7 linked regions of the Homo sapiens genome follow. The protein of the gene in region 1 interacts with the protein of each later gene in a pairwise test. Each region holds a gene or a part of one and is shown in the gene's direction. Other genes may lie near its edges. The genes, in order: KIT, SHC3, SH2D1B, PLCG2, SHC2, PTK6 and TNS3.

The links.
Region 2: the proteins of KIT (region 1) and SHC3 interact in binary tests that used the Homo sapiens proteins (3 or more experiments, as listed by UniProt).
Region 3: the proteins of KIT (region 1) and SH2D1B interact in binary tests that used the Homo sapiens proteins (3 or more experiments, as listed by UniProt).
Region 4: the proteins of KIT (region 1) and PLCG2 interact in binary tests that used the Homo sapiens proteins (3 or more experiments, as listed by UniProt).
Region 5: the proteins of KIT (region 1) and SHC2 interact in binary tests that used the Homo sapiens proteins (3 or more experiments, as listed by UniProt).
Region 6: the proteins of KIT (region 1) and PTK6 interact in binary tests that used the Homo sapiens proteins (3 or more experiments, as listed by UniProt).
Region 7: the proteins of KIT (region 1) and TNS3 interact in binary tests that used the Homo sapiens proteins (3 or more experiments, as listed by UniProt).

The regions. Positions count from the first base shown.
Region 1 is NC_000004.12:54,737,957-54,741,215, forward strand, and holds the end of KIT (mast/stem cell growth factor receptor Kit isoform 1 precursor), read left to right. Parts: intron 1-472; coding exon 473-601; 3' UTR 602-2,759; downstream 2,760-3,259. UniProt on the Homo sapiens protein: Tyrosine-protein kinase that acts as a cell-surface receptor for the cytokine KITLG/SCF and plays an essential role in the regulation of cell survival and proliferation, hematopoiesis, stem cell maintenance, gametogenesis, mast cell development, migration and function, and in melanogenesis.
Region 2 is NC_000009.12:89,172,319-89,175,818, reverse strand, and holds part of SHC3 (SHC-transforming protein 3), read left to right. Parts: intron 1-3,500. UniProt on the Homo sapiens protein: Signaling adapter that couples activated growth factor receptors to signaling pathway in neurons. Involved in the signal transduction pathways of neurotrophin-activated Trk receptors in cortical neurons.
Region 3 is NC_000001.11:162,398,637-162,402,136, reverse strand, and holds part of SH2D1B (SH2 domain-containing protein 1B), read left to right. Parts: intron 1-3,049; coding exon 3,050-3,214; intron 3,215-3,500. UniProt on the Homo sapiens protein: Cytoplasmic adapter regulating receptors of the signaling lymphocytic activation molecule (SLAM) family such as CD84, SLAMF1, LY9 and CD244. In SLAM signaling seems to cooperate with SH2D1A/SAP.
Region 4 is NC_000016.10:81,911,791-81,915,290, forward strand, and holds part of PLCG2 (1-phosphatidylinositol 4,5-bisphosphate phosphodiesterase gamma-2), read left to right. Parts: intron 1-806; coding exon 807-926; intron 927-3,500. UniProt on the Homo sapiens protein: The production of the second messenger molecules diacylglycerol (DAG) and inositol 1,4,5-trisphosphate (IP3) is mediated by activated phosphatidylinositol-specific phospholipase C enzymes. It is a crucial enzyme in transmembrane signaling.
Region 5 is NC_000019.10:433,534-437,033, reverse strand, and holds part of SHC2 (SHC-transforming protein 2), read left to right. Parts: intron 1-350; coding exon 351-404; intron 405-602; coding exon 603-654; intron 655-742; coding exon 743-869; intron 870-2,168; coding exon 2,169-2,325; intron 2,326-3,500. UniProt on the Homo sapiens protein: Signaling adapter that couples activated growth factor receptors to signaling pathway in neurons. Involved in the signal transduction pathways of neurotrophin-activated Trk receptors in cortical neurons.
Region 6 is NC_000020.11:63,530,939-63,534,376, reverse strand, and holds part of PTK6 (protein-tyrosine kinase 6), read left to right. Parts: intron 1-61; coding exon 62-225; intron 226-672; coding exon 673-826; intron 827-1,689; coding exon 1,690-1,851; intron 1,852-3,438. UniProt on the Homo sapiens protein: Non-receptor tyrosine-protein kinase implicated in the regulation of a variety of signaling pathways that control the differentiation and maintenance of normal epithelia, as well as tumor growth.
Region 7 is NC_000007.14:47,274,654-47,278,111, reverse strand, and holds the end of TNS3 (tensin-3), read left to right. Parts: coding exon 1-36; 3' UTR 37-2,958; downstream 2,959-3,458. UniProt on the Homo sapiens protein: May act as a protein phosphatase and/or a lipid phosphatase. Involved in the dissociation of the integrin-tensin-actin complex. EGF activates TNS4 and down-regulates TNS3 which results in capping the tail of ITGB1.

The DNA.
Region 1 (3,259 bases):
TGATAATTTTTGGGTTAAAGCTTGTTCTTCTGGGTGTCAAAACATGTTTCAAATTGAACAGCATTTTCCACCCAGTTGCTTTGATTCTTGACAAGAGACCCCTGGAAGGGCCGTGGGTTTCCCAGCAAATTACATTGGTTATTGGGTTGTAGTTGCTGGAGAGATTTACAAGCCTTTTAAATAGGTAAGATAGTGCTTGGTGCCTGGTGTGCCCTTTTAGAAGAGCTAAGCTTGTGCATGTTTTGTCCCCACTTCTTGTATAAAGTTATTTCCTTGGAAAAATGAAGGGGGAAAACAAAGCTTATATTTGTTTTGTCAGTATGACTTGGGTTTTGGCCACAAAGTTCTTGGAAACCACTTCTCTCTTAAGAGTTTCCATCAGTTAGTTGTGATCTTGACACTGTAAGTATGCCTTTTGTTGCTATGTTCGTTGTAGGGACTGCTGTATTGACTATGGGCTTGTTTTCTCCAGATTTACTCCAACTTAGCAAACTGCAGCCCCAACCGACAGAAGCCCGTGGTAGACCATTCTGTGCGGATCAATTCTGTCGGCAGCACCGCTTCCTCCTCCCAGCCTCTGCTTGTGCACGACGATGTCTGAGCAGAATCAGTGTTTGGGTCACCCCTCCAGGAATGATCTCTTCTTTTGGCTTCCATGATGGTTATTTTCTTTTCTTTCAACTTGCATCCAACTCCAGGATAGTGGGCACCCCACTGCAATCCTGTCTTTCTGAGCACACTTTAGTGGCCGATGATTTTTGTCATCAGCCACCATCCTATTGCAAAGGTTCCAACTGTATATATTCCCAATAGCAACGTAGCTTCTACCATGAACAGAAAACATTCTGATTTGGAAAAAGAGAGGGAGGTATGGACTGGGGGCCAGAGTCCTTTCCAAGGCTTCTCCAATTCTGCCCAAAAATATGGTTGATAGTTTACCTGAATAAATGGTAGTAATCACAGTTGGCCTTCAGAACCATCCATAGTAGTATGATGATACAAGATTAGAAGCTGAAAACCTAAGTCCTTTATGTGGAAAACAGAACATCATTAGAACAAAGGACAGAGTATGAACACCTGGGCTTAAGAAATCTAGTATTTCATGCTGGGAATGAGACATAGGCCATGAAAAAAATGATCCCCAAGTGTGAACAAAAGATGCTCTTCTGTGGACCACTGCATGAGCTTTTATACTACCGACCTGGTTTTTAAATAGAGTTTGCTATTAGAGCATTGAATTGGAGAGAAGGCCTCCCTAGCCAGCACTTGTATATACGCATCTATAAATTGTCCGTGTTCATACATTTGAGGGGAAAACACCATAAGGTTTCGTTTCTGTATACAACCCTGGCATTATGTCCACTGTGTATAGAAGTAGATTAAGAGCCATATAAGTTTGAAGGAAACAGTTAATACCATTTTTTAAGGAAACAATATAACCACAAAGCACAGTTTGAACAAAATCTCCTCTTTTAGCTGATGAACTTATTCTGTAGATTCTGTGGAACAAGCCTATCAGCTTCAGAATGGCATTGTACTCAATGGATTTGATGCTGTTTGACAAAGTTACTGATTCACTGCATGGCTCCCACAGGAGTGGGAAAACACTGCCATCTTAGTTTGGATTCTTATGTAGCAGGAAATAAAGTATAGGTTTAGCCTCCTTCGCAGGCATGTCCTGGACACCGGGCCAGTATCTATATATGTGTATGTACGTTTGTATGTGTGTAGACAAATATTTGGAGGGGTATTTTTGCCCTGAGTCCAAGAGGGTCCTTTAGTACCTGAAAAGTAACTTGGCTTTCATTATTAGTACTGCTCTTGTTTCTTTTCACATAGCTGTCTAGAGTAGCTTACCAGAAGCTTCCATAGTGGTGCAGAGGAAGTGGAAGGCATCAGTCCCTATGTATTTGCAGTTCACCTGCACTTAAGGCACTCTGTTATTTAGACTCATCTTACTGTACCTGTTCCTTAGACCTTCCATAATGCTACTGTCTCACTGAAACATTTAAATTTTACCCTTTAGACTGTAGCCTGGATATTATTCTTGTAGTTTACCTCTTTAAAAACAAAACAAAACAAAACAAAAAACTCCCCTTCCTCACTGCCCAATATAAAAGGCAAATGTGTACATGGCAGAGTTTGTGTGTTGTCTTGAAAGATTCAGGTATGTTGCCTTTATGGTTTCCCCCTTCTACATTTCTTAGACTACATTTAGAGAACTGTGGCCGTTATCTGGAAGTAACCATTTGCACTGGAGTTCTATGCTCTCGCACCTTTCCAAAGTTAACAGATTTTGGGGTTGTGTTGTCACCCAAGAGATTGTTGTTTGCCATACTTTGTCTGAAAAATTCCTTTGTGTTTCTATTGACTTCAATGATAGTAAGAAAAGTGGTTGTTAGTTATAGATGTCTAGGTACTTCAGGGGCACTTCATTGAGAGTTTTGTCTTGGATATTCTTGAAAGTTTATATTTTTATAATTTTTTCTTACATCAGATGTTTCTTTGCAGTGGCTTAATGTTTGAAATTATTTTGTGGCTTTTTTTGTAAATATTGAAATGTAGCAATAATGTCTTTTGAATATTCCCAAGCCCATGAGTCCTTGAAAATATTTTTTATATATACAGTAACTTTATGTGTAAATACATAAGCGGCGTAAGTTTAAAGGATGTTGGTGTTCCACGTGTTTTATTCCTGTATGTTGTCCAATTGTTGACAGTTCTGAAGAATTCTAATAAAATGTACATATATAAATCAAGTGGAGTCATTTGATTGTTGAGATTCGTTGAGATTAAACTTTAAAGCATTAAAGTGCAATCATCCTGACAAAGTTTTGTACGCAGTTTTCATAAAATATGTGCAGGGCTATCAGATCACGCTAGGATTTACATGCTTCGAGATTCAACAGATATTAAGAATTTTCATACGTGTGATATTTTCTCATTTTAGTCTTACAACCTGAGGTCTCTATTTAAATTGAAAAATAGATACAGAGAAGGTGCTTAGTATGTATGAGCTGGGTGCTGTCATGTGGGTGAAACATTATGCATGCCCAATTGGTACCGTCCAGACCACTGGAACCCAAACAGAGGCTGAGAGTTCTTCAGCTTGAAACAAAAGGAAGCACCCTGAATCACATAATCTTATTAAGAATGAGGCACCCACACACCCTCAGTCATGACTGTCTTTATTGACGTGACATCTACACCTGCAGAAATGTCTCCTGAAAGGAAAGGGAAGGGGTGAAAAGTGACCTGT
Region 2 (3,500 bases), on another chromosome or scaffold:
GTTATTTAGAATTTTTGAATAGTTCTACCGGTATCCTTACTTTAAAAGATTTCTGGTAGATAGAAATGGGCCATCTTTATCATATGACTAGATACCAATAGTAAAATATAAAGGTTTAGGGTTTGGGAAAGGATGCATTATTCTCTTTGATATAATTTTTTTCTAAATTAAAAATAAAGCCCCCAAATGTTTTCTAGTTTCCTGGAAAATTTATATACTGTATTATAGATTTTCCCCCTCAAAGAAATACCTACTTACAGGTGATATTAGGATATTGCACATATGAATTATAATTCAAAAATATTTCAACTTAATCTGAGAACAGGGACTGTAAAATACAGAAGTCTGGTGAATTTTGATCATCTAGGAAACATTAAACTATTTGAGCAACAGCTTAGAATGTGAATTAATGAAGGACTTAAAATTTAAACATGGAAGAAGTTCCTGAGCAACAGTAGAATTCAAAGCTCAAAGCATGTCTAATTGGTCCATCATTGAGTTTGCTGCTAAATAACAGAATGGGGCTATGCACACAGAAAGGCTGCAGCTTACTCTGCCTAGAGGTTTATATTCTTTTCAGCTGGGCCTCATTGGCAGCACCTTTTTACTCCCCTAAGTATCTTGACATTTCCTTTTTTCTTTTGGTGACGTAAAAGAAAGAACAAGGAACTATGCTCTTGATAGAAAAGAAAAATCCAACAGCAAAGAACAATGACTATTTTCATTAAATTTCCATTTTAAAAGTATTTGATATTTGGACCTAAAAGAAATACCAATGAGTATTGATTACGGTGCTGCCCACCTTTAAATTATCTTATCCTAAAGTCAAGCCTGGGTAGGACCCCAATCACTCAAGGAGGCTGCTGGTCTTTAGCAGGTTCAAAAGGCAATATCCTGGTCCTCCACCTTCTCTGTCCTCAGATCCACGGTGGGGAAACTGTAGGAAGGAATATGAACAGTGCAGGGGACAGGAGGCAGGGGTTCAGTTTTTAAAGAGCCAGTGGGCCATCTGAAGACAAGCACAGCCTTGACATTCAGCTCTGAAACTGCCTGCTGGAGGGGCGAGGCTGGAGCAGGAAGCAATGCTGTGTGGGCTGCACCGGGTTTGCCTTTGGCCCCAGCGTGGTCCCCAAAAGACGGGCTCCTTCTTAGAGCACATCACAGCACAGACTTCAAAAGGATAAGAAGTGACCATATTTAGAAATGACCCAAGTGCCAAGGGCAAGAATCAGGAGGCCCAATGTAAAAGCAATGGTTTTAGGTGCCCACTGCTCAGAGCTATTCCAACAGCGTCAGCATTCAGTGAGCCAGCAGATTACGCCATTCATAAACACCTGTGAAGGCTCCAGCGAAGTTACATAGGTTTCAGCTTGTGGAGTGTTGTATATTTACTGACAGTGAAAATGGCGAGCTATTTATAGGAGATTTAACGATCAGAAAAGTACTGCATTATTTCCTGATACACTGGACCCTTCCTGATATGCTTCCCTTTTGGAACAAAGCTCTGTTTTTACAAGGACTCTTTAAAAATTATTTTATTACTCCCATTTGTGCATCTAATGATATTTGGGGTGGTATAAATCATTTGCTTTATTTGTAAATGCTCTACTGCCTTTTATAGGTGGTCTTCGTAAATTACATTTACTCAAAAATTTATTCTTAATTTTTTTCACTTGACAAAGTGTATAAAAATATCTTAAATTTTCATTTTCTCAGAGCTGTATTCTTTTGGTAACTGTGAGCAAAGATCATACAAAAGTTATTTTAACTATATTAAAATAACTATATCAATTCTACTATAATATTGTAGAATTTTATTTTACCTCTAGACTGAAAAATTGATTTTGATGTGGAGTTGAACTTTAAAAAGTTGATTTTTTTCTCAAAATTCTTTCGAAATCTTATGATATGGATGGCTTACACGTAAATATCTAAATGGTTTGAAAAATAGTTTAAGAATTTCTTTTGACATTAATATATAAAGTTATTAATTTGATCTGGATAGTGAGTTGTCTCTTTTTATGTGACACAAACATAGATGTGTTAAAGGCACACACACACCACACACATATACACAAACCACACACACACCTCACATATACACACACATATGCACATACACACCATGCACCCACACACAACCATACAGACACTGCACACACACAACACACACACCCCACAGCCCACAGGTAGATGACTTGTGATGACTTTGGATGGGGGCTGTTTTCTTTCTTGTTAGAAAATAGGAAATGTCATATTTCTAGAAATACCCAATTATCTCAGTCATTTCTTTTATATTCATGTTTAAGAAAAAGATAAGCTACGACAAAACTTCCATCCTATAAAGAACAGATGGCTGCTTCTCTGCCTCCGCACGGTGTCTTACCTTTGAGTATATGTCATAGTTTTGAGGAATATATGATTACTATCATTAAAGCAGAGTCCTGGGAACAGAAAGCCTGGGCAGCAAACACGTGAACCCACTTGCAAGACTGGCTTTCCAGCCAACAGGCTGGCCCTGCAGGATGTGCCGGTGCTGCTGGCCTGCAGTGCCTGGCTTAGGGTAGGGGACATTAGAGCAGACACCTGGCCTGGTGAAGGTCCTGGACTGGTGAAAGGCAGGACACCTGGGCTGCAGCTCCACCGCCAGCTTAGTGTGGGGCTAGAGCAGTCAGCTCACCTCTCTGGACCTGGCTGTCCCTGGCTGCAGCAAGTTGAAGGCAGGGTTGTGCTGGGGTTGGTCTCTATGGGTTGGAGGCCTGGCCGAGGCAGAAATGGTGGCATCTGTATTGTTTTTTGCACCAGCATCTAATGTAATTGGAAGAGACGGGCCCAGGGAAGCACACTGCAGTATCAGGAGTGTGCTCACCTGATGGACACCTGCTGGATCACTGGGGCCAGGGCCAGACCCTGCAGTACAAGGATCCAAGTCCATGGTGGGGCTCAGAGGAAAGCAACAAGGAAGAGCCAGCATGTTCAATGAAAATACCCAAGGGCAGTAGAGTTAGTGAATTATTTAATTCATAAATAAAATGGTTTCAGATGCAATGGAAAGAAATGACCAGTTATGTGTGTTTCCTGGGTAAAGGACAAGAAAACAATTTTGCAATTTATCATAAGAGTTCTATAGTATGTGGTGGAAAAATAATATCTTTAAGGTGGGAGGCAGTGAGCATAGGAACAGCCTACTGAGTGGGTGGATGTTGACCATCGTGTGTGTGTGTGTCTGTGTGTGTGTGTGTCTGTGTGTGTGTGTCTGTGTGTGTCTGTGTCTTCGTGTGTGTGTGTGTCTGTGTCTGTGTGTGTGTGATGGGGTGTGGGGATGTGCAGCTGCACAATATGCCTTACAAGTTGGTTTTGGTCTTACAAGTTCATAATTACTCATTTTCTGTTGAGTTAAAAAACAAAACAAAACATTTTGACCCCACTGTGATTTTGCCTCTCCCCTCCCAACCAAAACAACAACAGTGTGACAAGGATCCACTGAGGGTCCACTGGGA
Region 3 (3,500 bases), on another chromosome or scaffold:
AATTAGAAGACTCAACAATGATGCAAGATGGAGCTAGAAAGGGACGGTGGAAAGAGGTCAGAGTGTTTAGGGAGTCAAGTGTGCCCAATAGTTGTACGAAAATATAGTGGGAAGCATCAGATAGCTGAAAGTCTTAGGGTTTGTTTAATTTTTCTGGTTTACTGAGAGCTAAGCAGAAAAACATTTTGCTTCTTTTAAATTTAGTTCTCTGGCTTAAGAAGTAGAGTATAATAAACATAACTGCTAACAGAGAATCCTAAAATAATCTTTCTCAAACACTTACATATAAGGTTAAGGAGACTACAGATTTCTAAGAATCTTCAGTATATTAATGTTTACTCTGAATATCTGAAAGAGACTAGAATATAAAATGATCCCCAAACACCTCACTTATACTATTTTTCTTTTGCTATAGAGGACATTATTGAGGCAGTTGACAAAATTTGAATAAATTCAAATTTTGAATAAGATTAACAAATAGTACTGTATCCAGGTTAATTTCCTGATTTTAATCATTGTAGTATGGTTATGTAATATCCTTACTTTTGAAGAAATACTGAAGTATTTAAAGGGATATTATGTCTGCAAATTAACTTTGAAAATAGCTTATATATATGTGTATATATACATGCACAATATATGTGTATATATTTGGAAAGAGAATAAAAAGCAAATATAATAAAATGTTAACATTGGGGTGTGGGTGAAATATATGGTAATTTTTAAAAATTATTTTTGCAACTTTGCTATGTCTGAAATAATTTCAAGATAAAATGTCTTATAAAAAGCAACTTATTTTAAGACTTTTTTTTCTGTTTATTCTTTGGGAAATTCTGGATAATTCCTCAGTACCCTGTTTTGTCTCTTGTGTGGACAAAATAGAGGGAGACATCCAAATCATTTGTAACTCAGACACAAAGAGGCGTTTCACTGGGGAGCAGCTTTGAGCTTAGAAGCCTGCAGTGATGCCTTTTGTTGAAATGACTGCATTAAAGGAACCTCCTTGCAGATGACTTTGATGTCAGCCTGTACCTCTAATACAGAGGTTAATCAGGCGCATATCAGAAAACCTTCTGATCACCAACCCCTTTCTCTAGTCTGACTTGGTGGCCATATGAAAACCACAGTGACGATCAAGAAAACCAAATACACAAAAGTAGAGGAAGAAAATTCATGTGTGTGTGGGTGTGTAAGACAGAGTCTTGCTGTCACCCAGACTGGAGTGCAGTGGCGTGATCTCGGCTCACTGCAACTTCCGCGTCCTGGTTCAAGCGATTCTCCTGGCTCAACCTCCCGAGTAGCTGGGATTACAGGCGTCTGCTACCATGCCCAGCTAATTTTTTGTATTTTTAGTAGAGACGGAGTTTTGCCATGTTGACCAGGCTGGTCTCAAACTCCTGACCTCAAGTGATCCACCCACCTTGGCCTCCCAAAGGGCTGGGATTACAGGCATGAGCCACTGAGCCTAGCCAGAAAATTCTTTTCATTTTAAAATTATTTCTAAAAGGTTATATTAGAAAATAGTGCTTGGTGGGCCAGGCATGGTGGCTCCCGCCTGTAATCCCAGTACTTTGGGAGGCTGAGGCAGGCAGATCATGAGGTCAGGAGATCGAGACCATCCTGGCTAACACAGTGAAACCCCATCTCTACTAAAAATACAAAAAAAAAAAAAAAAAAAATTAGCCAGGTATGGTGATGGTGCTTGTAATCCCGGCTACTTGGGAGGCTGAGGCAGGAGAATGGCATGAACCCGGGAGGCGGAACTTGCAGTGAGCTGAGATCACACCACTGCACTCCAGCCTGGGCCACAGAGTGAGACTCCGTCTCAAAAAAAAAAAAAAAAAAAAAAAGTACGTGGTGTATAGCTGGTAAACAGAAAACATCTATTTACAACTTAACTGAGTTGTGTTGCCATTCCCACTTTCTATTTACATTGGGACTTTTTTGGTTTTGTTTTGCCCACATGGAGATTGTGAATTCATCAAGTATACAAATTGTGTATTTTAAATTCATAAAGTATACAAAATGCATATTTTAAAGACATGGAATCAACCTAAATGCCCATCAGTGATAGACTGGATAAATAAAATGTGGTACATATACACCATGGAATACTAAGCAGCCTAACTGTTCTCCAAATTTGAAAAACCAAATCAGAGGCTGGTGGTTCACCTTTTAAAGCCAATAAAGAGAACCAGCCCCAGCTTGAGATGGAGAGGATCGAAATTAGAGTTGGAAGCATTTATGGTAAAATCTCTCACATGGGGATCAGAAAGGAGCTTAGGTCAAAAAAGAATGAAATCATGTCCTTTGCAGGGACATGGATGGAGCTGGAGGCCATTATGTTTAGCAAACTAATGCAGGAACAGAAAACCAAATACTGCATGTTCTCACTTGTAAGTGGGAGCTGAATGATAAGAACACATGGACACACAGAGGAGAACAACACACACAGGGGCCTGTTGGAGGGCTCAGGGTGGGAGGAGGGAGAGGATCAGGAAGAATAGCTAGTGAATGCTGGGCTTGATACCTGGGTGATGGGATGGTCTGTGCAGCAAACCACTACGGCACACGTTTACCTATGTAACAAACCTGTACATCCTGCACATGTACCCCTGAACTTAAAATAACAGTTGGAATTTTTTTTAATTGCATTTTTGCATTCCCATCAGAAGTCCACTTCCGATAGTCCCTTAAGATAGCAAAGCCCGCCTGTAGGTACAGACGTAAGCCCTTACAGGGGTACCCTTCACAGTGTATCTGCGAGAACTGCCCCAGGTAAACTTCCCAAGGATGGGGTTCACTTGATACTATGGACTGCGCTGGGATCCCTTGATTGCAAATCCTCTTTACTCAGAGTGGCTCAAGTCAGAGGTTGGTCTTAGAAATGAGAGTTTCTGTGAACTGGGAGTGGTGTGAGCTCCAGCCACTTGTTTTCAGTTTTTCAGCTCATAGAAGGGCAGCCCTGAAAACCCACTGCTTTGAGAAGTGTCACATTTCACACGCAATTGCATGATAATGAGTGATTTCCTTTCTTGTATTTTTGCAGACTGCAGAAGGTTCTCCAAAACAGGTCTTTCCAAGCCTAAAGGAACTGATCTCCAAATTTGAAAAACCAAATCAGGGGATGGTGGTTCACCTTTTAAAGCCAATAAAGAGAACCAGCCCCAGCTTGAGATGGAGAGGATTGAAATTAGAGTTGGAAACATTTGTGGTAAAATCTCTCACGTGGGGGTCAGAAAGCAATCTTAATCCTATTTCCACCAATGCCTTACTTTGTAAACTCAATACAGACAAATGCTCTTTTCTGTGACATTATCTCTAAAAAGCTTCATCCTACTAAGAGCAATTTCCATTTTGTTGAGAAGTGCTGTCTTTTAGTCCCTGAGGGCCAAGACAGAGAGCTTGCTGCGTTTGCAGCCAGGATAGCAAGAGTGGTTCCTGGGCAGACAGCTGACTTCAAATTCATTCTGTGACCTTGTGCAGACGATTCAAGTTTG
Region 4 (3,500 bases), on another chromosome or scaffold:
TTTTTTTTTTTTTTTTTTTTTTTTTGGGACAGAGTCACATTCTGTTGCCTAGGCTAGAGTGCAGTGGCATGATCTCGGCTCACTGCAACCTTTGCCTCCTGGGTTCAAGTGATTCTCCTGCCTCAGCCTCCTGAGTAGCTGGGACTACAGGCGCCTGCCACCATGCCTGGCTAATTTTTTGTATTTTTAGTAGAGACAGGGTTTCACCGTGTTAGCCAGGATGATCTCGATCTCCTGACCTCATGATCCACCCGCCTCAACCTCCCAAAGTGCTGGGATTACAGGCGTGAGCCACCACGCCTGGCCCAATTTTTGTATTTTTAGTAGAGACAGAGTTTCGCCATGTTGGTCAGGCTGGTCTTGAACTCCTGGCTTCTCGCGATCCACCTGCCTTGGCCTCCCAAAGTGCTGGGATTACAGGCGTGAGCCACTGTGCCCAGGCTATTTTATTTTTTATAGAGATGGGGGTCTCATTGTGTTGGCCAGGCTGGTCTCAAACTCCTGACCCCAAGTGATCCTCCTGCCTCAGCCTCCCAAAGTGCTGGGATTTCAGGTGTGAACCACTGTGCTCGGCCCAATGTATTATTTTGGGCTTGAAACAGACCCCTGGGGTCTTCCACTATTCTTTTCACAAATTCTCTTTGCTGAGGTGCCTTTGTCTGGGGAAGCCCACTGTGTGATTTCCATGGTCGTTTCCAGGGCCAGGTTCCAGGTGTCACTGGTGCCATTATCTTGTCCTCTGCGGGTGGCCCACTGACAGCCTGGAGACCGCTCACCTGGTCGTTTTCCCTGGCCCTGTGCCGCAGGTGGTACTATGACAGCCTGAGCCGCGGAGAGGCAGAGGACATGCTGATGAGGATTCCCCGGGACGGGGCCTTCCTGATCCGGAAGCGAGAGGGGAGCGACTCCTATGCCATCACCTTCAGGTGGGTGCGAGGGTGGGAGGCACATGCTCTACAGAGGGGCTTGGCAAGGACAGATGCGGAGAGACAAGGGGGAACTTCAGGTGGAGGCTCACCTGCAGTGCCCTGCCCCCCCAGCATCAGCGACAACAACAACCACCACAGCAAAAGCCGCTGCGAGAATGTGCGCTCCTGCGTGCCAGGCACAGTCTGCGTTCTCCAGGGCAGGATGTTCTGTAGTAACTCACTTTGGCTTCCAGTAACTCTGTGGGGTTGACATGACCATGATCCGTGTTTCTCAGAGGAGGAAACTGAGGCACAGCAAGATTAAGTAACTTGCTGAAGCATGCAGCCACTAAGTGGTGGGGCTGGGATTCGAGCCCAGACAGCCCAGGCAGCCCAGGCCTGTGATGATATAGATCTGGTTTCCTCCCAACTGCAGCTGCTGCCCAACCACCTCTAGGCCTGTGGTTCTCTAATGTTACCCCAAAACGCCAGATTCTCCCACTTCCACTAATGACAAGGAGCCGAGGAGTGACTCAGACTCCGTGTAGCCTACTGTCCCTCCATCTCCCCAGCCCCAGGGTTTCCCTGCATGTTCTTACGGTGGTAACAGTCTGCTATATGTTGAGTTCCTAACCGTGTTCTAGACACTGGACTGCCTTCAAGGCCTCATCTGATTGAATCCTTTGCTACAGCCTGTGAGAGGTAGGTCTAGTTATTGCAAGGGAGGAAACAGGACCAGAGAGGTTAAGTGACCTGCCTGGAGTCACACAGCCTCATAGTCAACTGAGTTTGAGGTTCAGATGCAGGCCTGTCCGTCTCCAAAGCCTAAGCTCTTCACTCCAGAGTCTCTAGCCAGAGGCCTGGGGGCCAAATCTCCAGCCAGAGGCCTGTGGGCGTCTTTTGTACACTGATGTGAAAAACTGAGAAATTTCACTGAAAAACTCAGATTGCTTCTTGTGAAAAATGGGAGGCAGTGGATGCTCTGGGCCTGTGTTTCCACATGGGCGCGGTGGTGCTGGCTGCATGGCAGCTACTGTGGGGTGTGTGGTTTGCCCCTGTCCACTCCTCTCCCCATTCCCTCTGCCCTGATCCCATCCCCTGGTGACCCTGCCAGGCTGCCCCCTGGGCGTTTGGATTTCCCTTCCTCCTTGCCTGCACCACTATGCCTGAGCCACCTCCCTGGGGACCGTGGTGACGGTCATTATCACTATAGTTTACTGAGGACCTACTGTGTACTGGCTCCAGCCAGAGAGCAGCCTCCCACCAGCATGGCTTTTCTGTACTCTCTGTTCCCAAGAGGGTGACCTGGGCTTCTCAGCATTGGTGCCTCTGCCCTTTGCTCTTTCCCCTAAGCCTCTTAGTGGTACCTCCTCAGCCTGGATGGGGAGGAGGTGTGTTCAGTCCGCTGCACACGGATTGAAAACCTGCTGTGTGCCAGGCCCCAGGTGGGGTGTTGGCACTCCCACTGTGCTGTCATCCTGTGCAAATGATGGCAACTAAACCCAACTGGCTGAAACTGAGGTGCCCAAGCGGTGAGACAGCTCTGACACAACCGGATCGGGGCCTCACCTGATGATGGTCAGGATGCCACCTGTATGTGCATGCTGGCGTTACTCTCCATCAGCTTCTGTCTCAGGTGGCTGTACCTTGGGCTGCCAGGACAGTGTCCGGCAGAAAGGATGGCCCCCTCCCTGAGCCAGGTGGCATGATTCTGACAGGCCATCTGGGGATGGGGTTGGGGTCACTTCAATGGGACCGCGTGAATGAAGAGGTTGGGTGGGTCCTCAGGTTGATTGCCTGACTTACATACACGCCCCATTCAGTTTGTGAGCTTGTCTTCCCCATGAGATTGGAGGTGTCTTGAGAATGGAAGTTTTTATTTTTTAGAAGTTAATAGATGTTTGGTGAGCACCTACTGTGTGCCGGGCCCTGTGCTGGGCTCCAGAGATGCAGGAGTGATAAAAACAGCCCAGTCCTTGCTCTCTCAGGCTAATGGTCTGGCAGGGATGAGAGACATCGCCTTACTCCAAGTGTTTCTTGCTTTTGACCTGTTCCTGCTTATGTAACATTGGCTGGGATGTAGTTGGTGGTTGGTGAATGCTGGCTCAGTGAATCAATCAGCAAGGATGGCCGCTCCCCACCTCACCCCATGGCCCACTGTCAGGGAAGCTCAGTCCACACAGTGTTTCTCAAAGAGTTGGGGTGTGAGGACTGATCCTGTTGTATTTGGATGTTGAACTTCCCTGGTCTCTACCCACTGCATGTCTGTCTGGGACCCTAAGTCATTGTAACAATCAAAAATAACATCCCTGCCCCAGGACACACACTTTTTCAAACCCTCTCTGGTCAGGGTATGGGGTGAAGCGTCACTGTCCTTCACTGAGAAGCACTGAGGAGGTTTGAGCACATAAGGAAATCAGTGTAGTATTTTGTGATGAGTGCTACAAAGGGATTGGTCAGGCAGGGTGGTGGAGGGTGAGTAGCTCTCCAGGGAAACGGATGGGGAATTTGGACCAGGCAGTAGGGGAACACAGGTCTGCAGCAACTTCTCCTTGCCCTCTACATATTTGTAAAGTGCCTCTCCTGTGCCAG
Region 5 (3,500 bases), on another chromosome or scaffold:
TGCATGTGTGTGGGGCTTGGGGTGTGTGTGTGTGAGCGTCTGGGCAGGTACATGTGTGAAGTGTTACAGTGGGGGAGGTTTGTCCTCTCACACACATTCCCGTGTGACCTCCTGCGGACCCCACACATCCCTTAGGGCCCTAGTCCCTTCCTTGCTGGGGACTCCACATCCCAGCCTCGGTCGTCCAGGCTGACCCAGGACCCGGCTGCAGTGGGTGCCTGTCCAGGAGACGTCTCCATCCCCACATCCCTGCCCCTGCCCCACTCTTCGCTGTGGTCCTGGTCCATCTGCCGGGCCCCCTGCCCTCGAAGCGGGGCCCCCATGACCGCGTGTGCCTCCTGCCGCCACAGGTCATCGCCAACCACCACATGCCGTCCATCTCCTTCGCGTCAGGCGGAGACACGGTGAGGCCAGGGATGGGGGTGGACCTGCAGCCCTGCCGCCCCCCTCCGGCCGCGAGACCCTCTCATCCTTCCCCAGAGCCCGCCTAACGTACCCTGTGCCCACATCCACTGCCCCATCTCTCTGCATTGCTGGGGTGGGCAGCTGGGAATCCCGGTGGGGGGCCCAGGCAGGTCCAGCTGGCCCCTCCCCGCCCCCAGGACATGACGGATTACGTGGCCTACGTCGCCAAGGACCCCATCAACCAGAGAGGTGAGGCCCCCGGGGAGGCCGGTGGGGGTCCTGTGGCTGGGGGGCACGGCCGTGTGGCTCGGAGGCTGCATGACCAACGTGCCCGCAGCCTGCCACATCCTGGAGTGCTGTGAGGGCCTGGCACAGAGCATCATCAGCACCGTGGGCCAAGCTTTCGAGCTGCGCTTCAAGCAGTACCTGCACAGCCCGCCCAAGGTGGCGCTGCCCCCAGAAAGGTAACCAGAGCTGCCTCCCCCGTGCCCTGGGGACACCCCCAGTGACCTGCCCAGGTGCAGAGCCTGCTCCACCTCCTGCAGGCCTCAGCCTCCGTCCTGCCCTTGTCCCTCCCTCCCTGTCCCGTGAGAATATGGCTCAGCCAGAGGATCCTGTTTCCTCGGCTGTTAACACCCGAGTAAACGCATCCCCGCCTGCCCCCCAGGATTGGGGAGGACTAAGCAAGCTGACTCCCCGGTGTGCCTGAGGCTGTCAGCCCTGCTGCTACAACCAATATCCCTCCTCCAGACGCGCGGCCGGCTCCCGCAATGGGCAGAAAACGGCCTCCGTCTCACCGCAGAACATGTGTAAAGGGGGGGACGTGTCTGTGTGCTGGTAACACGTTTTTTATAGACATTGAAGTGTGAATGCCACGTGTTGCAAAATATGATTCTCTAGATGTTTTCTCAAACACTTAACTTTGATAATTTAAAGATTGAAAGCCCATTCTTAGCTCGTGGGCCACACAGATCTAGGCGGTGAGCTGGATTTGGCCCTGGGCTGGGGTTTGCCAGCTGGCCTTGGAGAAGGAGCTATTTAAGTCTCTATTCATCATTAGAAAGTCAGCTTCCTCCAATGGTGGGAGGGCAGGTGCAGGTGCATGAGCTCCCAGCCTGCTGGTCACGAGGGAGGCGGCATCGCACGCCTGCTCACACTCACCCCTTTGTGCACGGGGACAGCGTGCTTGATGCACGTTGCTCAGCACGCTCCGAAGCTGAGACGGGCTCCTCGCCTGCCTCCAGAGCTGCCTCTGCCTTCCGTAGGCTGCTTCATAATTTATCCCAGCAGCGACTGTGGGCCAGGTGGGGTGCACCCCTCTGGCTCTCGGGGCCGTGCTTGCTGAGGAGCACCTGCAGGATCAATTCCTGCCAGTGCCATCGGGGCCAGAGGGCGGGGGCGCTTTGATCCCAGAGAGTTGCCACCCTGACCGGTGATGTCCTGGTTCTGGGTATAAACTTGGCTCATGCCCTCTGCTGCCGGGCGGGGCCGGAGGTGGGCAGAAAGGAGTGGAGACTGGGTTTGCCAACGACCTGCCTTTTGTGCTACAGCTCGGAAATGTGTGCAACATTCCATTTTATAGATGAGGAAGTAGTGGGCCTGGTCACTGGCTCTAGAAGCGTTTCCCGGTAGGAACCCTCAGTGACAGGTGGGGGGCTGGGATTCGAACTCAGATATTTCCTGCTCCCCCAGAAGCTCAAGCCGTAAGGCTTTAGCCCCCTTGGGCCCTGCCTGTGCCATGGCCGTTGTTGTCTGTCCCCCAGGCTGGCAGGGCCGGAGGAGTCGGCCTGGGGGGACGAGGAGGACTCTTTGGAGCACAATTACTACAACAGCATCCCGGGGAAGGAGCCGCCGCTGGGCGGGCTAGTGGACTCCAGGCTGGCCCTGACACAGCCCTGCGCCCTCACGGCCCTCGACCAGGTCAGCCTCTGCCCTCGGGGGGATGGGGACAGGGATGCCCCAGCTGCTGGTTCCCTGGACCTACCTCCAGCTCTTCTTTCTGCTCCTGTTCTCCTCGATCCTAGAGGAGGGTCTCTCACTCAGACTCACTCACTCACTCACTCATGATTTCACTTACTCACAGACTCACAATCTCACTCACAATCTCACAGGCTCACGATCTCACTCATGATTTCACTCACTCACAGACTCACGATCTCACTCACTTGCTCACTATCTCACAGACTCATGATCTCACTCAGTCTCACTCACTATCTCACTCACAGACTCACGATCTCACTCAGACTCATCATCTCACTCACGATCTCATGATCTCACTCACTCATGATCTCACTCACAGACTCATGATCTCAGTCACGATCTCACTCACTCATGATCTCACTCACTCATGATCTCACTCATGATCTCACTCACTCATGATCTCACTCAGGATCTCACTCACTCACTCAATCACAGGCTCACAATGGGGCGCCGTGTATCTGCCCGGCCTCCTCTATCTCTCACTCACTATCTCACTCACGATGAAGCGCCATCTGCCCGGCCTCCTCTAACTCTCACTCACGATCTCACTCACGATGAAGCGCCATCTATCTGCCCGGCCTCCTCTAACTCTCACTCACGATCTCACTCACGATGAAGCGCCATCTATCTGCCCGGCCTCCTCTATCTCTCACTCACGATCTCACTCACGATGAAGCGCCATCTATCTGCCCGGCCTCCTCTATCTCTCACTCACGATCTCACTCACGATGAAGCGCCATCTATCTGCCCCGCCTCCTCTATCTCTCACTCACGATCTCACTCACGATGAAGCGCCATCTATCTGCCCCGCCTCCTCTAACTCTCACTCACGATCTCACTCACGATGAAGCGCCATCTATCTGCCCGGCCTCCTCTAACTCTCACTCACGATCTCACTCACGATGAAGCGCCATCTATCTGCCCGGCCTCCTCTAACTCTCACTCACGATCTCACTCACGATGAAGCGCCATCTATCTGCCCGGCCTCCTCTATCTCTCACTCACTATCTCACTCACGATGAAGCGCCATCTATCTGCCCGGCCTCCTCTATCTCTCACTCACTATCTCACTCACGATGAAGCGCCATCTGCCCGGCCTCCTCTAACTCTCACTC
Region 6 (3,438 bases), on another chromosome or scaffold:
CTGGGGACGCAGGGAGGCGTCGGAGTTGGGGTGGCCACACAGCTCACGCTCTCCCTCCCAGTGCGGGACACGCAGGCTGTGCGGCACTACAAGATCTGGCGGCGTGCCGGGGGCCGGCTGCACCTGAACGAGGCGGTGTCCTTCCTCAGCCTGCCCGAGCTTGTGAACTACCACAGGGCCCAGAGCCTGTCCCACGGCCTGCGGCTGGCCGCGCCCTGCCGGAAGGTAGCCGCTCCGCCCTGACTTGGTCACGCGGGGTCAGGCTGGGGGGTCACAGGCTGGCATTTCCTACTGGGAGAGGTTGGCCGGGCAGCATGGGAGGGGTCCTGACTCACTGACCTGGGGCCCACTGGAGGGAAGCCCATGGTTCTGCAGAGCACAGGTGTTTGCCTGAGTTGGGGGTGGGGCCAGGAGACCATCCCCGGGCCTGGCCACTCTCGGAGAGGCCAGCGGCACTCTGCAGGGTCCTGGCTCCGGTCTGTCTGGGTGTTTCATGCTGGGCTGGGGGCAGCCCCCAGGAGAGTCCACCCTTGTGTCAGACACTCAGAAACCCCCAACCCAGGCTGATCGTGGCCCTAAATCTGAGGCTAAATCCAGGCTCCCTGTGCTGGCTTCAGACTGGCACTTCCTGAAGGATGAGCCCCTGCCCTGTGTCCCCGACTCTTCCTCCAGCACGAGCCTGAGCCCCTGCCCCATTGGGATGACTGGGAGAGGCCGAGGGAGGAGTTCACGCTCTGCAGGAAGCTGGGGTCCGGCTACTTTGGGGAGGTCTTCGAGGGGCTCTGGAAAGACCGGGTCCAGGTGGCCATTAAGGTGATTTCTCGAGGTGAGTGGGCCCCGATCAGGGCTCTGTGTGGCCCCGTGCCTGCCCTGGGCCACCCTCCCACCCCGCCAACAGGGACCTCTGGCCTCGAGCCCCAAGCAGCACCCACAGCGTCCATGCGAGAGTGGTTCCCTTTCAATTGCACCTATGTTTTTACCTAAATACATTTATTATAAAAGAAAATTTTAGGCCGGGCACGGTGGCTCACATCTGTAATCCCCACACTTTGGGAAGCCAAGGTGGGCGGATCACGAGGTCAGGAGTTTGAGACCAGCCTGGCCAACATGGGGAAACCACGTCTCTACTAAAAATACAAAAATTAGCCGAGTGTGGAGGCATGTGCCTGTAGTCCCAGCTACTCGGGAGGCTGAGGCAGGAGAATCGCTTCAACCCAGGAGGCGGAGATTGCAGTGAGCTGAGATCGCGCCATTGCACTCCAGCCTGGGCGACAGAGCAAGACCCCGTCTTGGGAAAAAAAAAAAAGAAAGAAAGAAAGAAAATTTAAAATCCTTGACGTAATGGAAAGCCATTAAAATAGATCACTGGAAATGGGTAAAACTTCCCTGGAACCCGTCTGGGCCCCAGCAGAGGTCTGGCCTCTATGTCAGAGGTCTGGGCCGGGCACAGGAAGAAATCGGGTGGCCACCACAGCCCCGTGGGTACGCCAGGCTGGGGCCCTGTGGGGCCGGCTGCATCTGCCATTTCGTGGCCTCGGGAGCCAGGTGCCCTGTCGGGGGCAGGAGGTCTGTGTGTCCTGCACAGCTGCTGGGTGTGATGGCTGCTGTGTGTGGGGGCAGGGCCTTGGCCTCTTCCTTGGGGCCTGGGGGGTCAGGGGCTGCATCCACCGAGGCCACCCGTCCCCGCAGACAACCTCCTGCACCAGCAGATGCTGCAGTCGGAGATCCAGGCCATGAAGAAGCTGCGGCACAAACACATCCTGGCGCTGTACGCCGTGGTGTCCGTGGGGGACCCCGTGTACATCATCACGGAGCTCATGGCCAAGGGCAGCCTGCTGGAGCTGCTCCGCGGTGAGTGGCATGGGCCGGGGCTCTTGCTGGAGGCAGCGGGGGCACGTGAGGAAATAAAGTGCACACCCCCCCCCCACGTCTACACACACACACACGTAGACACACAGACACACAGACACACACATGCACACACAGACACAGACACAGACACACAGAGACACACACGCACAGACACACATGCACACACACATGCACACAGACATACACATGCACACACAGACACACACACAAGACACATCACATGACACACACAGACATACACATAGACACAGACACACACACAGAGACACACAAAACAGATCACACGGACACACACAGACACACACACAGATCACACGGACACACACAGACACACACACACACAGACACACACTGATCCAGACACACACACAGACACACACAGATCACATTGGCTCAAAGACTTCATCCTCTCTAAGTTCCATTATTTCCTTTCTCACCAAAACCAAAGACAATCGCTGCCAGGGAATGGAGATGCCCGTGCGTGAAGGCGCAGTTTGGATTCCGATGTTAGAATGGGAGGGAACGTTGTGGTATAGGAAAAATGCCGTGTGTGTCTGAGGAGAGCTACACTGAGGCACCACGCACGTTTGCGCTCTGAGCGAAAGGCTCCGTACCCCTCGCCCTCACACAAAGGGCTTGATCATCTCAGACAGTCCCCACGCCCTTCAGGGTCCTCCGGGAGGGAATGTGGGGTAAAACAGGCACCACCAGGCCGCAAGCCGCTGACAGCCATTCTCCTGTTCGAGTTCCCACTGCCTACATCACGCAGTCATGAGCCTCTTCGCTGGTCCTTCTGCGTCCAGCTCCTCCCGCGTCATCACAAACTTCCAGAAGGGAAATCGCTGGGCTAGACCACTAGGAACTGCTCCTTGGTTCTTTTTTTTTTTTTTGAGACGGAGTCTCACTCTGTCGCCCAGGCTGGAGTGCAATGGCGCAGTCTCGGCTCACTGTAACCTCCACCTCCTGGGTTCAAATGATTCTCCTGCCTCAGCCACCTGAGTAGCTGAGATTACAGGCACCTGTCACCACGCCCAGCTAATTATATATATATATATATATATATATATTTTTTTTTTTTTTTTTTGAGACGGAGTCTGGCTCTGTCGCCCAGGCTGGAGTGCAGTGGCGTGATCTCGGCTCACTGCAAGCTCCGCCTCCCGGGTTCACGCCATTCTCCTGCCTCAGCCTCCCGAGTAGCTGGGACTACAGGCGCCCGCCACCACGCCCGGCTAATTTTTTGTATTTTTAGTAGAGATGGGGTTTCACCGTGTTAGCCAGGATGGTCTCGATCTCCTGACCTCGTGATCCATCCGCCTCAGCCTCTCAAAGTGCTGGGATTACAGGCGTGAGCCACCACGCCCAGCTTGCTCCTTGGTTCGTGATAAACAGTTGCCTTCCAGAAGGGCGGTAGCTGGCCTGCAGTTCCAATTTTCAATCAGGCCAGCTGCCCTTTGCCCCGGCCCCTCCTCTGAGCCCGCAGAGCTTGGAGGCAGATGAGACATGGCCCAGCCTCCCCAACCCTTCCCCACCTCAGCTGGCTCAGCTGACCCCAGGCTCTGCTCCACT
Region 7 (3,458 bases), on another chromosome or scaffold:
TCAAAGGTCATGATTGGTTCCCCAAAGAAGGTCTGAGAACTCCCCTCCCTCCCTGGACCCACCGATGCCTCTCGAAGCCCTGGAGACAGCCGTTGGGTGAGGGTGGGGCCCCCACTTTTTACCAAACTAGTAAACCTGACATTCCAGGCCCATGAGGGGAAAGAGGATCTTCCAGCTCTGCAAAAACAAGAACAAACAACATCACCGTGAATTGGCCTTTCCTGAAAGTGACTTATCTGACACATCTCTGTAGCCACATGCTTTTTGGGTAGAAGAAGCTGGGCATGGGTGCACCCCACCCCCTAGGGTCCCCATGGGAAAGGGACATGCAAGGAAACAGCACAGAACACGAGGTGGTCCCCATGTCCCTGGCACACTAGCATTCCGGGGGATGAGGAATCCCCAGCCCTTGAGGCAGAGGTGCCGAGTGACTGCCATGCTTCGCCCGTCCGCATGGGCGCTTCTGTCCAGCTGCACCCGAGGCCGGGGGTTTCCCTCACCTCGGTCTTCCCAAGATGGAGATGCTAACGAAACTGAGAAGGGGGCGTATGTTTGACGAAGGTTTGTGCAAGTCAGGCCCTTCTGGAACACAGCAGGGCCTACAACGAGGGGCCTTTGCGATGGGCTGTGAGGATGGGGGTGGTGGGAAGAATTGGCCACGTTGGAGACCCCATGCCACCCCACCATGGTGAGTGCTCTGTGCCTCCTGCTCACCTGTGGTGAGCTGGGCGAGCTGGGCGAGCTGGGCGAGCTGGGCTGGGGAGAGCCTGTGAGGACCGAGAGGAGAAATGAGAAGAAGGAACAAAAATATTATTTCTATGTAATTTATATTTTACTTATGCCAAATTATTTATGATAATTTGCCATTGCTATACTGTACCAGTGTCAAATGCTGCAGCCTGCCAAGCTGTGATTTTGTGAGGCTTGTCCCTATGTAGGATGCACCGCAGGCCCCTGGCCACTGAAAGAGTGTGCAGTGGACTGTGGGTCTCCCATATGCGGTGCCGCCCAAAGGTGGCTTTGCCTCAAGCAACCTACCCTGATGTTTTACTCATTGGAATGTTTTTCCCCGATTGTGGATGACTTCTTTTCTGATGGAGAGAGTCCAGGAGGGATGGAAAACTCCTGGATTTAAGCTCAGCATCCCCCACATGGGCTTTTCGATCATCTTCAGGCCTGAAGCTGCACGACCTGAAGTTCGCCTGCATTTATCAGCCCTCTTTGTGCTGCTCCTTGCCACCTTGGGGTTCCTGCTGGGGACCATGTGTGGTTGTGGCATGTGTGAGCAGAAGGGAGGATGAGGAAAAAGAGAAGAAACCCCGGTACTGACAAGCTGTTTTTGAGTGCCACTGTTTGCCATCATCTAAGCCACTGAATCAAGTGTATTTCAGGCTTATTTCAACATTCCAATGCCCTGGTTTTCCTGCTTGAATCTGTTCGTGGTCAAAGGTTTGGGGGAATTTGTGACCCTGGAACATCCCCAGAGTGAAAGATGGAGCTGGGCCACATCAGAATAAGGCCTTGGCCCCATCCTCTCACAGCCTAGGTGCTCTGCAGGCATGCTGACTGTCCTGATTGCGATCCAGCCCGAAATTCCCTCCTCTGCTTTCAAAAGTCAAATCCCCCATTCTTAGGCCACACTGGTGTCACAAGCTCCTGTCAGGGAGCTGGGGTTTGGGAATGTGCTTTGTGAACTCTGCTTTAAAGTGAGGGGCCGAGGAAAACTTAGAAACAGGCAGAGTTGGAAGCAGCCAAATCACAGTGGGTGTTGTGTGTGTGTGCGTGTGTGCATGCGTGCGTGTATGCGTGTGTGAAAGCAGGTGGACCATTCCACTTTTTAGCTCCTATTGATGCACCAAACCAAGTGCCTCATTTCTGTGCCAAATGTTTGCCTTGGTCGTTGTGGACCTCCTTCTCTAACTTGCGGTGGCATGACTGTCAGGAGGTGCTGGCATTTTCAGCAGATCCTCATGTGTTGACCCTGATGTCTTTAGCAGAGGCCTCTAGCATCTCGGTTTTTCATCCACTGCAGGAATGTGGCCACAGGGAGCAGAGGTTTGTACTTTCCCCAAGAGGTCCTCATCCTGAGACGGTCTCTACCCATGTTTAACCCAAAGAGTGCAGGCCAGGTTCCTTATCCTTCTGATGAAGGATGAGAGAGCTCATTTAGAAGTCAGAGCAAACTAGGGTCTCAGTATTGAGAAACGCAGCCTGCCAGGGAATCACAGAGACATCGGGGTGCCCGCGATGGCCCTCATGAAGCCATGCCTCGACGGCATTCAGGAAGCCCTGCAAACGTGCTTTTTGAACTCATTGGCCAGGTGTGATTTTTACACAAGGTAAACGTGGTCAAGGGCATCGGGGAATTTGCTCCAAGCAGATAGCTCCCTCTGAGGAACCAAAGGAAGCAAGTTTCCACGATTTCTGAAGAGCTGGTATAGGAAGTTTCTTTCTTCCTTTTGTGTTACATGTGCATTAAACAGAACAAGCTGTGTGTCATCACAGATTGTACTGTGGGCTCAGAAACCGTGAGAGAGCCCCCACCGTGGACACCGGCTCTAGGGCCACAGGAAAAGGAACGTTTCCAGGCATTTTGTCTCCAGGGCTCCCGCTGGACAGGCACGTACTGCCCTGGGGAGTAAATGCGGAGAGTTCACGAACTGTGCCCAACGCATGTTATAGCCAGGGTCCTACTAACTACTCAGTAAAAGAACGTATTGTTGTATTCCTCCAGTGTTAAGCTATAGCCATGTTAAAAGTCACTGTGCATTTATTCTCAGCATCAAATACCTTGTAACGTCTTCTCTGCCTTGTTAGTGCATATTTTTACTTTTCTGATACTGTAAAGAATATATCCAGTATGTAAATGAATGTTCTATAAATCTTTTGTATAGTCATTTTCTCTGCTCCTTAAATATCATCTCTATTCAGAGTATAATAAAATTATGAACTTGGTAAGCCTCCGTGAGACGGTATTTGTGTACCCTGAAGTATGTTTGTGTGTGTTTGCACATGTGTGTATGCGTGTGCATGTGTGCACTTTTGTGTATGTGTCTCTGCAAATGTGTGCATGTGCTTGCACAGATGTATCTTTGTCCACATGTGTCTGTGCGTCTGCGTGTGTGCTCGTTCATGAATGTGTGTCTGTGTGTTTACAAATCAGTGGATTCAGTTATAAAATCACAAATGTTTTGCTGTCAGGAATATATTAAGATTTCTGCCCAGAGACCTTTGAAATGTTATATTCAAAGATCTTTGAAGATTAACCACAATGCAGTGTTGATAATGGGTCCTGACATGTTTTCGATGTTGCTATGAATACCCCTACACACACACTGGCTGCAGAAACACACCCCTGAAGTGGGCCAGCTCCTGAAGGACCTCCCAGTGTCTATTGAAGTGGGCACTAAAAGTGAATATTGAGACTGGTGGATTCACTTACACATCAACAGATGCTG